2 separate regions of the Homo sapiens genome follow, and region 2 is linked to region 1. Evidence: fine-mapped expression QTL. A gene starts in region 1. The other region holds a variant in brackets. All regions are shown on one strand. Distances are between the middles of the regions.

What was found. PIP is the estimated chance that this variant, and not a neighbour inherited with it, causes the effect.
Region 2: its variant is fine-mapped to the expression of ATP2C2 in whole blood (TOPMed, PIP 0.94).

What each region holds. Positions count from the first base shown.
Region 1 is chr16:84,364,043-84,372,042 of GRCh38, forward strand. It overlaps ATP2C2 (ATPase secretory pathway Ca2+ transporting 2), which reads left to right and starts at 4,496. Exons shown (of 27, transcript NM_014861.4): 1 at 4,496-4,672. The coding sequence starts at 4,574.
Region 2 is chr16:84,458,911-84,466,910 of GRCh38, forward strand. ATP2C2 (ATPase secretory pathway Ca2+ transporting 2) reads left to right here. Exons shown (of 27, transcript NM_014861.4): 22 at 210-278; 23 at 360-476; 24 at 1,744-1,891; 25 at 2,804-2,902; 26 at 3,078-3,219; 27 at 4,704-5,277. The coding sequence ends at 4,822. ATP2C2-AS1 (ATP2C2 antisense RNA 1) reads right to left here. Exons shown (of 3, transcript NR_146503.1): 2 at 2,785-4,089; 3 at 349-1,983. Among named protein-coding and RNA genes, the nearest start is that of ATP2C2-AS1, 4.4 kb to the right of the region's middle. RefSeq lists enhancers at 191-690, 2,046-3,245. The variant G/A (reference allele first, on the strand shown) is at 4,398.

The sequences.
Region 1 (8,000 bases):
AACAAATTGTACAAAATATACTTTTGTACAGTGTACCCTTTCCAAAAAGGATGTCTTCAGTGCCACGCTTAGAGAACTTTTGAGTGAAGTTTGTTACCAAACAAAATACAGGTGTCTTGAGGTTGCATCCTGGCTCCCAGCAGGGCGCATTGCTGGGGATAATTTGTGGGCAGTGAAAAGACACGACTCTGACATAGAGAGTGAATGGGAGTTGCAGAGCATGACCTCATTGTTCAAGGTGCCCAGAGCAGACATTTTGAGAAAGGCTGGATGCCTCTGGTTGGGTCCCACCCTTGGCGTTCATCGTTGGCCAATAGGGCAGAATCACTCTGAGGCGTTGAGCCGCAAACCCCAGAAAGTTCTCCAGCCAACTGCCTTGTTAGATTCTTTGCAAGTGGGCTCTAGCATTTTACAGGCTGAAGGCAGAAAAAATAAACAAAAAACTTGAAAAAACAGAATCTTGAAGTCTGTGGGGATGACCACGGAATCCAAACAAAGTGACAGACAGAGCTCAGAAAGGTCGTTTAAGGCAAACATAAATAGCAGGTGTAACTGACGGGGAAACAACAACACACAACAACAACAACAACAACCAACTCAGAAGGTAAGAGCTTGGGCCGGGCACGGTGGCTCAAACCTGTAATCCCAGCACTTTGGGAGGCTGAGGCAGGCCGATAGATCACTTGAGGTCAGAAGTTCAAGACCAGCCTGGTCAACATGGCAAAACCCTGTCTCTACTAAAAAAAAAAAAAAAAAAAAAAAAAATTAGCTAGGCATGGTGGCGCATGCCTGTAGTCCCAGCTAATCTGGAGGCTGAGGCACGAGAATCGCTTGAACCCAGAAGGTGGAGGTTGCAGCAAGCCGAGATGGTGCCACTGTACTCCAGCCTGGGCAATAGAGCAAGACTCTGTCTCAAAAAAAAAAAAAAAAAAAAAAGAGAGAGTTTGGATAATTAACTTACTTAGAATATAAAAGGATGCAGAGGTTAGAAAAACAAAAATTAAAGTTGGAAAATTTCTTTAAATCTGGAAAAGGAAACCAAAAGAGACTGTAAATACTCATCTGTATTTCTGAAGTGTTTTCAGGTAGCTCCCAATAGAACTTTCAATGAGATGTTTATTCCAAAACCAAAGTAAAAATTGACAGCAAATTGAGTGCTTGCCTCAAAAGGCACAGAAATGAAACATGAAAGAGGATGACAGAAGTCAATCTAACAATGACAACTATAACAATGTAAACACAATACATTTCCCTATTTTTTTTTTTTTTTTTTTTTGAGACGGAGTCTCGCTGTGTTCCCCGGGCTGGAGTGCAGTGGCGCGATCTCGGCTCACTGCAAGCTCCGCCTCCCGGGTTCACGCCATTCTCCTGCCTCAGCCTCCCGAGTAGCTGGGACTACAGGCGCCCGCCACCACGCCTGGCTAATTTTTTGTATTTTTAATAGAGACGAGGTTTCACCGTGTTTGCCAGGATGGTGTCAATCTCCTGACCTCATGATCCGCCTGCCTCAGCCTCCCAAAGTGCTGGGATTACAGGCATGAGCCACTGCGCCCGGCCTACATTTCCCTATTATAAAGCAAATCGTTCATATGAAAGTTCTGTTAAATATAAATTTGAATGATCTGCTGTTTATGGGAGACATATTCAAAAATTTTTTGGAGTATTTGCCATGTTTCAGGCACATCATTTACCATAACCAACACTGGTGGAGCCTAATTTACCTAATTTTACACACCACAAATCTAATTTATAGGCCTGGGCAACAGAGCAAAGACCCCATCTCTACATAAAAATAAAAATTAGAAAATTAGCTGGGTGTGGTTCTGTGCACCTGTAGTCCCAGCTACTCAGGAGGGAGTATTGCTTGAACCCAGGAGTTCAAGCCTACAGTGAACTATGATCGCGCCAGTGCCCTCCAGCCTGGACTACAGAGTGAGACCTTGTCTCTAAAATGTACATGCATATATCCACCACCTAGAGTTTCCTTCTGGAATGCCCTGGGCATTTTCGAACCTAGCCCAGGAATTCCAGCCTTGACATCTCTGGGCTGGAGCGGAAGCCATGGTGATAGGATCCGAAAGGCTGGGCTTTCAAATCCTCTGCTCCGGGGATGCTGATCTGCCTGGAGAGATGACATCTGGTTAACAGCTTGGAAAAACATGAAGATGCCAACAAGGCGTTCTTCTTCCCTGGATCCAACATCATTTTAAAATCACAGAATGCCACTTGGGAAGGACCTGAGAAATAACTGAGCCAAGTTCCCATATGTTCTTTTATATTAATAATATAGAAGCGCCTGAGAGCCTGCAATGTCGGGTACCACGACATCGTACTACTACATCATACCTGTGCAAGCATTCACTCAGCCTGAACCACAGGATGCTGAGGTTGGCTGCGGGATGTCTCCTCCTTGTTCCTCTACAACACTCTTTTTTTTTTGTTTGTTTGACATGAAGTCTTGCTCTACTGCCCAGGCTGGAGTGCAGTGGCACAATCTTGGCTCCCTGCAACCTCCACCTTCCGGGTTCAAGCGATTCTCCTGCCTCAGCCTCCGAAGTAGCTGGGATTACAGGCGCATGCCAGCACACCTGGCTAATTTTTCTATTTTTACTAGTGACAGGGTTTCCCCATGTTGGCCAGGCTGGACTCGAACTCCTGACCTCAGGTGATCCGCCCACCTTGGCCTCTCAAAGTGCTGGGATTAGAGGTGTGAGCCACCTTGCCCAGCCTCCTCTACACCACTCTCCACCCTTCTTTGGATTCTCTGCCCAGGAGGCTGCATCCTTGGCGCTCTGTTGCTTTCTGGCTTTTGATCTAAGCAGTTGCCCTCTGCAGAAGTTATCAGTGCCCCAGAGCTCCCCCTCCAGGTAACTCCTCTCTCGTCTGGCCCTTCAGGCCTTGGGTGGGACCAAAGCCACTTCTCACTCTTTGCTAGTCTTCGTTAATGACACAAGCACTTCTGGTTTCTCTACGTCTTCCCCACAGCTTTGTAAAAAGTCTGTTTCTCAAACTCTCCTCAAATTACTATTTCCTACTGGGACCCTGACTCCTACGGGTAGGTAGTGACATCCCCATTTTATGGATGAGTAAACTGAGGTGGAGAGAGGTGAAGAAAATTGCCCAAGGTCGGAAAGGAACATTCCTGGGATTCAAATCTGGACTCACTCACATCAGAGGTTTGCTGTTACCATTATTCCTGCACCTTTGTTGAAACTGGGGAGTGGGGCCAGGCTGATACCGTAGCCTTTGTTTCCTTGAAAGAGGAAGATGCAGGAGATACAAGAAGGGGCACTGGAACTGCCCTGCAGGTTTTCGTGGCCTGGAGTCAACCCTCGGGAGCAATTGAGGTAGGTGGCAAATATTTGCTCAAAAGGGGTGGCTGAATTTCGTGGACAAATGCAGAGGGCACCTCCTGTAGCCCGTGAGTAACTTCCCTGTAGAGATGAGGAAGCCAGCGGAAAGGCGGGTGGCACGGACTTCCCCAGAGCTCCCCCTCTGCTAAGTGGTGGGTCTAGTTACGGATCTAGTCCTACCTGAAGCCAAAGAAAGCCCTGGAACTTCAAAGCACCCACTTGGCTGCTGGCAACTGTCTACACTGCGTATGGACTCACATACTTTGGGAGCCATTTGAGCCCAGCACCTTCTGATGATGAAGAGGAGGAGGATGGTGTCATGGGGACACCAGCACATTCTCTACTCCAAGCCCTGCTCGAGACCTTCCTGTACAGCACTGTCCGCTGGGGCCTCTCCATGTCACTGTGAAGGAGGCGCTATCGTGGTGGCCATTCTGCAGAGCAGTAAACCAAGGCGCTAAAAATATAAGAAACCTGCTCAGGTCCCACGACGAGCAAGAGCGGCGCTCATCCTGCAGACGAGGACAGGGGCCCTGACCATCCGAGACCATGCAGGCGCCAAAGGCAGCAGGGCTCTCAGTCGCTCCTGTTCCTGGACTCACTCCCAGGGCCCTGGAGGTGGGGGTCTTAGCCTTCTGCTGCTCCCCGCTCAATGACAGGCTAGGTTGCCGAGGCTCAGAAAGGCCACGTGACCCGTCCAGAGTGCACAGCCGCAGGTGTGAGTCTGACTGAGCTCCAGCCACCTCGCTCCCGGCGCCTTAGAGCCGCCCACCCTGGGTTCCTCAAGAGGATCACCTGGGGCTCGTTAAAAACCCAGCTCCCGGCGGCTCCAAACCGTGACTGGGCAGGGAGGGGTCTGGGAATCCGGATTTTAAACCAGCATTTGCTCCTCCACCTCCCCCACTCCAGGTGATTCTTAGGATCTGTAAGTTTGGGAAACAGCCCAAGCCCTGAGGCGACGCAGCCTCTCCCTGGGCCTTTCATGGCCAGCCGGCGCTGTCCCCAGAGCCCCTGGGGTCCCAGGCGAGCTCGCGGGGCGGGGCCGGGTGAGCCGGCACCTCCCTGTGCGCAGCCCCGCCCCAGGGGCGGGGCCTCACCTGCCGCGGGCAGGTAGACAGCTACCTGGTAACCGGGTCCGGCCCAGGAGGCTTGGGCGCGCGCAGCCATCCCGGGCCTCGCCGGGGACCTAGGGACGCAGGCAACGCCTGCGCCCGCTCACCATGGTCGAGGGACGCGTCTCCGAGTTCCTGAAGAAACTCGGCTTCTCGGGCGGGGGCCGCCAGTACCAGGCGCTGGAGAAGGACGAAGAGGAAGCCTTGGTGAGTCCCCGCGACTCCGCGCCGGGCGTGCGACCCGACCCCCCATCCCCTCCGTCGTAACCGTCCCCGGCCCGAGACCCCGCGTTCGCGCTGCGATCCGCGAACTCGCCCTCCTCCCCTGGCTCTGGAAAGAAGCTGTCCTCACAGCAACCGCGCTCTCATCTGCGCTCTGGCGCGGGGAGCTCAGCATGGAACCCTCACGTGAACCCATTTTGTGGTTGAGAAACTGAGGCCGAGAGTGGTTAAGTATATTCCCTAAGGGGCACGGAGCTAGGAAGTGACCTGGCTGGGAACTTAACCTAGGTTTCTCTGACTCCAGAGAATTAAAATTCCTGGGTCTCCAGACTTGGGCTGCTTTATGGATTTTTAAAACTTAAATTGGAAAATAAAATTAGAGGGATGCAAAAAACAAAAGATTGCTGAAATGTTGTAGCAATAATAGAAAGCAAAGTTGGAGCTGAGGGACCTCCCAGCCTCACTTCCTACAGTCAGGTACTTTTAGAAAGTCACTCAGAGCTGTATGCCTGCTTTGCAACCTTCAGGGACCCTCTGGGATAAAGCAGCAGGGTGCCAGGGCAGGGCGGTTCATGAGGGAACGAAGTGGCAAAGCTGTCAAATAAAGCCCCTCCTGTTCCTTGGATTCTTGGAAGCCAGGGGTGAAGCCAGGCTTGAGGGTGACCCAACACCCTTCTTTTTAGCTTCGCAAACAGAACTCGTTGCATGCTTTAAGGTCAGGGGGGCACTGAATTTCTGCAGAAGCGTTTCTCTGCACGCCAGAGGGTCGTTGCACTTTTTTTTTTTTCATTTACGCTTAAGCAGTCGTTCAAAAGTAACATTTCTGAACGAGTCCCCTGGGTTGCTAATTAGAAATATGACTTGGCGATGGCCTTTTGACCAGTGAAAGGAAACTTCAAAGGTAAACTTACCTTTTAATTAAAAAAAGAAATTAGCTGAAAAAATATTTGACTTAAAATTTTATTTTTTTCTCCCAAAGAATACTAATGGTCAAAACATTTTGTTTGTGAGATTAAGTATTCGTGCTTTTTTAAAAATAGTGTTTTGTGCTTTTTTAAAAATAGTGTTTTATACATCCCTGTTGATGTAAGAATTCTGGTCTTAGGGTGGTAGGCCACAGGACCACGTAACTAGCAGTTTTTGAGCAATCTCGATTTTTCTGAAGTGGCATGTTAATATTGATAGGATATAGAGTTCAATTAATTGGCTGTGATCCATTTCTCTGCTTCTGCGATACATTCTGCTAAAGGAGTTTGAAGTTTATTTGCCATCACAGGTTGCCTTTCCTATGTTGCCATTCCTGTTTTTTCCTTTCCATCTTTTGATTCTTGCATCAGGCCAGGTATTTTTCAAACTCTCCTGGTGTGTAGTTGGTTACCATCAGGTTTCACAGGATGTCCAGGAATGCAGGTGCATGGATGATGTAACCTCAAGGGAGATGCTGGGAGAGTTTGATCTCTGTGCCAGGTGGACTCGTCCCTCCAAAGCTTTGCAGGAGAGTTCTCAGAGGTCTGACAGGTGTTCAGCCGGTCTGTCAGTGTGCTCTCCCACCTGGCTGTGGACCGGGGTGCTCTCAGCAGCATCCTGAGGCCCTGGGTGCGTGATGATGGGCAGTGTGCAGCGCCAGGAGGCGGGTGATACCAGCACTGACACCAAAGGCCAGCTGAGAAAGAAGCCATGCTGTCTCCAGAGGCAGCCTTGTGCAAACCCAGGAAATGTGCAAACCCAGGAAATGGCAATGAAGATCGATGGGAAGTGTGAGGAGGGAGGGAGGTGGGGAGGCCGGGTGGCTGGGCGAGGCACTCACTTCCTGCCAGGTTGGCTCAGACCTGAACACCTCCTTTGCTGTCATACTCATGTCCTCTCGTTGGAACTCCTTTCTCCCAGGGTTTGGAAAGGAGGCGATGTGTGTTGAGGTGATCACTTCTACAATAGTTGGAATTGTCTTTTTTTTTTTTTGCGTTATTTCATACTAGTTTATTTAGGGGTTCCATTTTCACTCCTCAATAGAACCGTCTTTTATGAGCACTAATTACATGCCACATCCAGGATGCCTGTAGGAGGCCTCTAAGCCCTCCCCTCCCCCAGCCACTTTGACCAGTTACCCCAGTTCTAATAGTGATTGTTACTGAGAACTTGCTGTGTCTTCTCTTGGGCCTCTTACCTCCAAGGTAAATTTTACTCTCGTCATGTGATCAATGAGGATGTGAGGCTCCTAGTGGGGCCACGTTTGTTTGCTCAGTGAGCATTTCCTGACAGCCAGTTTTGCTAGGCGCTGAGGATACAGATGTGTACAAAACAAAGTTCATAAAGGAGGCCAATGGTCAGCTGAGAAACTGGGAGATGCTTTATTTGAGACCCAGTGGTCTCAGGTGCACTGGAGAATCAAAGAGTAGAGGACCAGACAGAGGACTGGTGGTTGAGAGGGGAACTGGAGACGACCCCATGTTAGAAGCACTGGAGACTGGATTTCAGCATTTCCAGGAATGGAAAGAAAGGTGTTTGAGCCGGGCGCAGTGGCTCATGCCTGTCATCCCCACACTTTGGAAGACTGAGGCAGGAGGGTCACTTGAACCCCAGAGTTCAAGATCAGCCTGGGCAACATAGCCAGATGCCATCTCTGCAAAAAATTAGGCGTGGTGGTGTGCACCTGTGGTCCTAGCTACTCACCAAGCTGAAGCAGGAGGATTGCTTGCACCTGGGAGGTCAAGGCTGCAGTGAGTTGTGATCATGCCACTGTGCTCCAGCCTGGGCAACAGAGTGAGACCCTGTCTCAAAACAAAACAACAACAAAAAGGTCTTTGAGAGGCCTCCTTAATTTAGTTACTAGAAAAAGCTTCTCACTGCTGACCTGAACATTAGGGTAAGGAAGAGATTGGAGCAGAAATTCCTGCTTCCCAGGTGACTCAGCGCCAACTCCGGGGGAAGCTGTCTCTGCCCCTCAGGGCTCCCATCTCTTAAGTGAGGCAGGTATAGCCCCAGCCCACTGCCTTCCTGGCTGGTGAGCAGATGCATCCTTCTGGGCTCTCCAGGGTGAGGCTTGGATCCCAACAGACGAATGTAGTGACCACCCATCCATTCAACCTAGATTCACGGAGGGGGCTCCCTCTGTGTGTCAAGTGAGTGCTACCAGCTGGAGTTGGGGCTGATAAGGATGCACAGTTCTCTACCCTCAGGTATCCCAACCAGGAGGCAGAGACAGGCACCCAGCAACTGGTCACAGTTCACTGTTTAATGCCAACGTGTCAGAGCTGGGAGAAAGACGTGATGTTTAAGATGAATAGGAGTGGCAAAGGGTGAGCTGGATGAAGGG
Region 2 (8,000 bases), 95 kb after region 1:
GGATCAGTTCCCAGTGGCCGAGGGGCACCTGTTAGAACACCACCGTCTCCTACAAATGTGTCCCCAAGAATGCCAGCAAGGGGAACCAGCAGGGGCCCAAGTATAACATCAATCTGGGCGAGTCACCACTGCCCCTTGCAGCAACCGATGCACTGGTCCAGCCCTCACGCAGGCCCGCTCCGTGAGTAAATGGCTCTCTTCTCTTGCAGGAATGCAGTGGAGGAAGGCAAGGGTATTTTTTACAACATCAAAAACTTTGTCCGATTCCAGCTGAGCACGTAAGTAGAGGCCAGCATTCCGAGTGTCATTAAGCACCACGCCTGGCGGGCGGCCGCTGACTGGCTGCGTGTGCCCCGCAGGAGCATCTCCGCCCTGAGTCTCATCACTCTGTCCACCGTGTTCAACCTGCCCAGCCCCCTCAACGCCATGCAGATCCTATGGATCAACATCATCATGGATGGGCCACCGGCGCAGAGGTGAGGCAGGGCCGGCTGGGAGCCCTGTGTCTCTTTACCCACCTGCGGGGCTTCCTCCAGGGGCTGCTGGCTGTGCCCCAAGGCTATAGGGATGAACAAATACAGCCACTTTCCATCAGGAGTTCCCAGAAAACTGAAGTGTGTTGCACTGCAGTGAGACTGGGAGTAGAAGGCAGAGGAGAAAGTACCTGGGCCGGCAGAGCTGGGTGAGGATGGAACTTTCTGCTCCCTCTGCCTGGATGCTCTCTCTGGGCAACCTGCATGGCTCATTCTCATGCTTCATTCCAGTCACCAGTCACTGCCTTCAGGAAGTCTTCCCTGATTGCACTCCCACTCAATCCCCTCACCCTGCTGTATTTTTCCCTAGAGAGGAAGATACACACAGACACACTTTTCCTTATGGATCTGATTGTGATCTGTCTCCCCTTTAGAACATCAGTTTCATGGAGGCGGAGTTTGTGTTTCATCCCTGATGTCTAGAGATAAAGGGCTTGCCACTCAGTAGGTGCTCAGGAGTCCACCCGCTCCGCCACTTAATATCCCCTTCAACAAGCTGGCCAAGTGGTGTGGGGGAAGGAATGCGCTTTGGAGTCAGGGGACCCATCTGGCCACGTGTGCGTAACCGTATGAGCACAGAGCCAGTGCTTCCGCTGGAGCTCAGTGCTGCTGTTATCACCAGTGATAGCTGCCAAGGGAAAGAGAGTCCTCATTTGTGTCCCCAAAGCCAAGTGTGAGGGTTACCTCTCCTGCCAGCCCTCCCTGGGAGCAGAAGTGGGACCAGGAAGCTGGCCTCAGCTGTGTCTGAGCGGCAGGGCCTCACCCGGCCACTCCCACCATACCGCCTGCTGCGGGTCTAGCCTCAACCCTGCTGTGTGGAGTTGGCTGGAGGCTGGTCTCTCTCAGCTGATGAGGGGCTCTGCGGAGGGCGGAGCCTGGAGCCTGTTTCTCCAGGCGCAACGTTGGGGGGGGTCCCCTCGGGGTGATGGAGATCATCTGGGTGTATGGAACTGTGTGTGGTTGGCCTTACGGGGTGGTCTTCCTTCACTGTCTGCGGGACAGATGGAGGGGCACAGCTGCCCATGGACCCAGGCTCTGGGGCTTCTGGAAGGTGCCGAGGAGGGCAGGTGCGATGCCTGGGGGCGTTCAGCAAATGCCTGGCCCTGCCCCCTGTGCCAACTTGGCCTGGGAGGCTCAGGCACAGCTGTTTCAAGGGTCCTTTATTTCATTCCTGGTTCATTTCAAAGTGTCTGTGTCTTGTTCGGAGCAGCTTGGGGGTAGAGCCCGTTGACAAAGACGCCTTCAGGCAGCCACCACGGAGTGTGCGGGACACCATCCTCAGCAGAGCCCTCATCCTGAAGATCCTCATGTCCGCGGCCATCATCATCAGCGGGACCCTCTTTATCTTCTGGAAGGAGGTGAGCGAGGGTCACCCCGGCCTGTTCTCCAAGCCCTGGTGCGGTGCAGACGCTGGGGACTGCAGTCCCTGCCCTCCTGCCACAGCTCACATCTGGGAGAGGCAAACATGTACACACACCGGACAATGTGATGCCATCAGAGGCGTGGGGTGCATGAGGCAAAGGGACTGGGTGACCCTTGAAAGAAGGGAGGTCGCCAGGTGTGTGCCTGGGAACTACAGAGGCCAGCGGGGTGGAGATGACTTTGCCGAGACGGGAGTTGAAATGTACATGAGGACAGGCTGCCCCCTGTTCCCTTGTCACCAGGAAACAATTTGAAATCTGCTAAATATCCTCCTGTGTTACACTCTAGAGGTGATTGTTTGCTTTGGATCTAGGCCTGGGTCACCTTTTCATGGCCTGCAGGTTCAGGGAGCTCTATGCCAGGACGGGCCACGATCTAGGTGGGAAATGAGGCAGGTGACCCATGTGACCACACCACAGATTGCCCATGTGCAGGAAGCGGGAGGGGACCCTGGCCGGGTACCCTGCCTCCATTTTCCCTCCAGCTCTCCCTCTACTACTGACGGCCATCCTTCAGCCTTCCTTGTAGGAAATGACCTTCACTCTGGGTTTAACTGGAGTGGCATCACCTCCCAGGGAGACAGTTACTTCCTGGAGGAAGTGGTGTTTCCTCCACCCATAGGTGCCCTGCCCCCATCCTCATGGTGGCAGCAAATCAGCATGTGCTGGGGAGACCCTGGGGTAGCAGCCACTGACCTCACACCTGGAGGAAGCTGTGTGACCGATTCATGAGCTTGTAAGTGGCTCCCAGCCATGCCCCAGGAGCAGTGAGGCAGGCCTGTGCCCTTTGGTTCAGGATGGAGGTTGTCTCTTCCCGCCTAACCTCTCACCTTTGTGCTCACCTTCCAGATGCCTGAAGACAGAGCAAGCACTCCCCGCACCACGACGATGACGTTCACTTGTTTTGTGTTTTTCGATCTCTTCAACGCCTTGACCTGCCGCTCTCAGGTGAGACCCGGGCTGACCCTCCTCGCTGCAGAGCTGCTGTGTGTTCTCGACAGCAGCGCCCCGACCCTGCCCGCAGCATTGAGCGGCTCTGGCTCAGCGTGGGCAGTCAGAGCTCCCCTGCCTGTACCTGGGGTGTGGACAGCACACAATCCCCCGTGTGACCTTCTCCCTGCAGACCAAGCTGATATTTGAGATCGGCTTTCTCAGGAACCACATGTTCCTCTACTCCGTCCTGGGGTCCATCCTGGGGCAGCTGGCGGTCATTTACATCCCCCCGCTGCAGAGGGTCTTCCAGACGGAGAACCTGGGAGCGCTTGGTGAGTGGTGGGGACGGGAACGACAGGTGACCTCGACCAGGGCCATGGGGGGCGGCAGCTGCCAGGTGGGGAGCTGCAGCCCAGGAGGGGTCAGTGCGGGAAAGCAGAGCTCACCAGGGGCCGGCTCTGTCTTCAGGGCCCTTCTGTCCTCACAGGAAGGGACTCTAACGTGGGTGATGTGACGGATGCACAGAAACCCCTAGGAAGAGGCCTGTCACTCAAGAGTAGTAGGGTCTGGGGCCCAAGGGGCACCGGCATCCCAGGCGTCGGGCTGGAGGCTCAGAGCACGTGCAGGGAGGAAGGAGGGAGCAAGGCCTGTACTCAGCCTGGGAGGTACCCCAGCTGGGGAGCCTGGACTTGACCCTGGGGCCAGTAATGTGACTTAGAGATCTGGTCACCTGAAGGCAGGGAGCTGGGCTGTCTTCCAGTTTTGGCTGAAAGGGACATGATTCAGTCACCGTGGTTTTCCAAGGGCACACGCCCTGGTGTGGAGCCCAGGGGACTCCCCGACATTGTCAGCCAAGCGAGTGTGGCACCTTTCTCTGAAGCTGCGGTTATGGCAGGCATGGGGCAAGGGGAGGGAGCCAGGGACAAGTCATCGACCCCACCCTTTTCCCCAGTGTGCTGAGAGCCAACCCCAACCCGGAATAGAGGACGAGGGAGGCCAGTGAGGCAGCCCCCATGGGCCCACCGCCTCCCCGCCGGCAGGGCCCAGAGTGGGTCATGGCTCAGATCTGGAGGGTCATGGGATTATGCATCAGACCTGAGGCTGCAGTGACAACGGTCCTATGACCTCCAGGCAAGACTGGGATGGTCAACTCTGCCTTGTCCTCCAAAAAGCAGTGTCAGTGTGGGTCACCAGTGAATGCCCTGTAGGAACAGACAAGAGGACCCCCCAAAACACTCTGCTCACTGGCTGTTTCCACCCGCCGGGAAGGAAGTCGGCTTCCCACGCCTGAAGGGGTTGTGCTTGGGCAGCCCGTACATCAGGAATCATCAACAGGGAGCCAGGGATGGTTCCTCAAAACAGCATGTGACAGGAGCAGAGGGAGACGCTGGGAATTCATCCCAGGGAACATGTCGCTGGGAATTCATCCCAGGGAACATGTCGGGGTGCACTGGACAGGGAGCCCAGACTGGTCACTCAGGACATTTGCAAGCAGCAGGGCACTGGGACA[G/A]CTGCTGTAGGGAAAGGAAACTCATTCCCCTTCCAGCCCGAGTCCATAACATGCTCCCAGCTGCCTGCCAGACCCACCCTGTGCTCTGGAGCTGCCTGGTGTTTGCCTGGAACCACAGGCAGGCCCTTCTGGAACTGCAGCATTTTGGATTCTGGGTTAGGAAGATCTCCCTGCCTTCAGGGGAATGAAAAGGGCTGGTCCTCCGCACCTCTCACTTTATCAGGAGGACTGGCAGGGAAGGCGCTTCCTGCCGGCGCAACAGAGCTGCAGCCCGTCCTGAATCTTTTCTGTTTTCTCCCTTGGCAGATTTGCTGTTTTTAACTGGATTGGCCTCATCCGTCTTCATTTTGTCAGAGCTCCTCAAACTATGTGAAAAATACTGTTGCAGCCCCAAGAGAGTCCAGATGCACCCTGAAGATGTGTAGTGGACCGCACTCCGCGGCACCTTCCCTAATCATCTCGATCTGGTTGTGACTGTGGCCCCTGCCGTGTCTCCTCGTCAGGGGAGACTTTTAGGAGGCCGCAGCCTTCCATCACCGGATCAGTTTTTCCTCTTAGGAAAGCTGCAGGAACCTCGTGGGCTCCAGGGACCCAGGCCCACATCCATCCAGCGTTCCCGCTGGCTGTGGGACAGACAGGGAGGGGCCTGTACAGAAACACCACACTGTTTATTAAATCACAATGATTTTTATTAACCATGTCTAACTACGTATCTGTGCCACAGCTTGCAGTGAGGCAGGCCACTCGTGGCAGATACAAGGGGCTCCTGAGAGGCAGTGGGTAGGATGGTCACACTCTGCCCATTGCCCTCCTGGAGGCCCCATTTCCTCATCATAAAATGAGGGACTTTTAAATAAAGTGCTATGCCGGGGGATAATTATTTTGATGTGTTTACCTAGGGTTTTTCATACAAGGGGCCAGGTTGGAAACCCACAGCCATGTGTTAATGGCCACGTGGGGTGAGCAGCAATCCATCATGAATGGCCTACAGGAAGGCCTCGGCTTTTGGACATAAAGAGTAGGGCTGGGCATGGTGGCTCACGCCTGTAATCCCAGCACTTTGCAAGGCCAAGGCAGGCAGATCACTTGAGGCCAGCCTGGCCAACACAGCAAAACCCTGTCTGTCTCTACTAAAAGTTTAAAAAAAAAAAAAAAAACAGTTGCCAGGCGTGATGATGCACACCTGTTAATCCCAGCTACTCGGGAGGCTGAGGCAGGAGAATGGCTTGAGTCCAGGAGGTGGAGATTGTACCACTGCACTGCAGCATGGGCAACAAAGCAAGAGTCTCTCTCAGAAAGTGGCCCTTCTCTCCGGAACCAGGAACTGTAGTATCTCCTGCTGCCTGCAGACAAGCTTGATTTCCCACTGCCCCAAAGACTTCCAAAAACCGATCTGCTCTTCCACGTGACAGATGGCAGAGGAGAGAGGTCTCCATGCTGTTCTTCTGCCTGAAGCCACGCCAGAACCACCAAAGGGAACCAGAAGGGGAACTCCGTCCCCATCTCTCAGGAAATAAGGCCAGAGCTAGAACCCCCCATTTACTAGTCAGGCCTCACTAGAGAAACAGAACCAACAGGATGGAGGGAGATGCAGAGATTTGTTTTAAGGAACTGGCTCATAGGATGTTGGGGGCTGGCAAGTCTAACATCTTGAGGGCAGGCCAGCATCCTGGAGACCCAGGGAAGAGCTGGGGATGCAGGCTGGAGGCAGAATTTCCTCCTCCTCAAGGGAGTTCAGCCTTTTCCTCTTATAGTCCTCAACTGATCGGATGAGGCCCACTCACGTTATGAAGGATAAACTGTTTGTTTTACTTCAAGTCTACGGGCTTACATGTTAGTTACACAGCGCCATCTAGACCAGTGTTTGTTTGACGAAAATCAACTTGGCCTGGCCAAGTTGTCAGATAAAAGTACCCGTTGCACCCAGCCACGGTAGCTATGAAAAGGGCTACCAGGGGTGGTAACAGCTGGGTCAGACGAAGATAAGGAAGGTCAGAGTGGACCCCTGCCAGGGTTCCAGGCAGAGTCCAAAGTCCTCCATAGTAGGATTCACAGCCTGGGAAGAAGCCCCTCTCTGGCTACAACCTGTGACACCAGGGCCACAGGAGGAGATGCAGCGATGGGCCATTCCTAGTGAGACACAGACACAGGGCTGGCTGGAGAAGAAACCTTTTGAGCTGTGGGGCTGTCTTCCTAGAAGCTGCCAACCCCTGGAACCACTAAGAGGTCAAGGCTGAAGTGTGCCACTTCCACAGTCTGCTAAGGAGTGCCTCCCCCTGAGTCAGGGACAATTCTTGCTCTACTTTTCAGGATCCTTGGGCACACTGCTGGCCCGAGACATTTACTTCCCATTTAAAATTAAGTAATCAAAATACCAGGGTCGATTACTCTGAACTCTTGCTTATGTAAACTTTAGGGATAAAACTGTAGTAAGACACAAAATGCTAACAATAAAATATAAATTAGACTACATTAAAACTAAGACCTTCTTTTCATTAAGGACACAGTAGACTTGAACACCACCATTAAGCAACTTAGCTTGATTTACACTTGTAGAACACCCCATTCACGAGTAGCATAGAAACAGTCACCAAAATAAAGAGCAGAAATCAAACGAAAAAGCAAAAATAGAGGAAAATCAATCAAAACCTAGTTTTTCGAAGAGATCAATAAAACTATCAGTCTTGCAATAAGCTTATCAAAGAAAAAAGGGAAGAGAAATGACCAATGTCAGGAATGAAAAAGTATATCACCACAAACCCTTCAAGATATTCCAACAATAATAATAAATAATACTATGTACATCTTTATGTACCTAAATTCAATCAATTGGATGAAATAAACCAATTGCTTGAAAACCAAAAACTACCAAAACTCACTGAAGATTAAATAGATAAGCTGAAGTTGAAACCCTTCCAAAAAAGGCAGTTTCTGAAGCCAGATGATTTCACTGGTGAATTTTACTAAACTTGTAAAGAAATGGCAATTCGATACACTGAATTCCAAAAATAAAAGGGGACCGAGCACTTCTCATTTTATAAGGTCAACAATCACTCTGATACCAAAACTAGAGAAAAATACTAGAGACCAACATCCCTTATGAATATATGCACGAAAATCCTCAACAAAATATGAGGAAATCAGATCTAGCCAGGTACGAAGAATATAAGACACCAGGACGAAGTGGGGTTAATTGAGGAATGGAATTCAAGCATTCCAAAGTTCAACATTCAAAACCAATATAACTGAAAAGTTCAACATTCAAAAACCAATATAACTCACTATATTAATAGTCTGAAGAAGGAAAAACACATGGTTATATCAATTAATGCAGAAAAGGCATTTGATAAAATTCAATCTCCATTTGTAATAAAAACTCTCAAACTAGGAATTGAAGGAAACTTCTTCAACCTGATAAAGAACATCTACAAAAAACCTATAGCTAACATCATACTTAATGATGAAAAACTGAATTCTTTCCCCACAGGATAAGGTCCAAGGGTGACCAGCCTCACCACTCCTATTCAGCACAGTATTAGAAGTCCTAGCCAGTGTAATATGGCAAGAAAAGTTAAAAGGCATTAGCAAAGAGCCTGGAAAGGA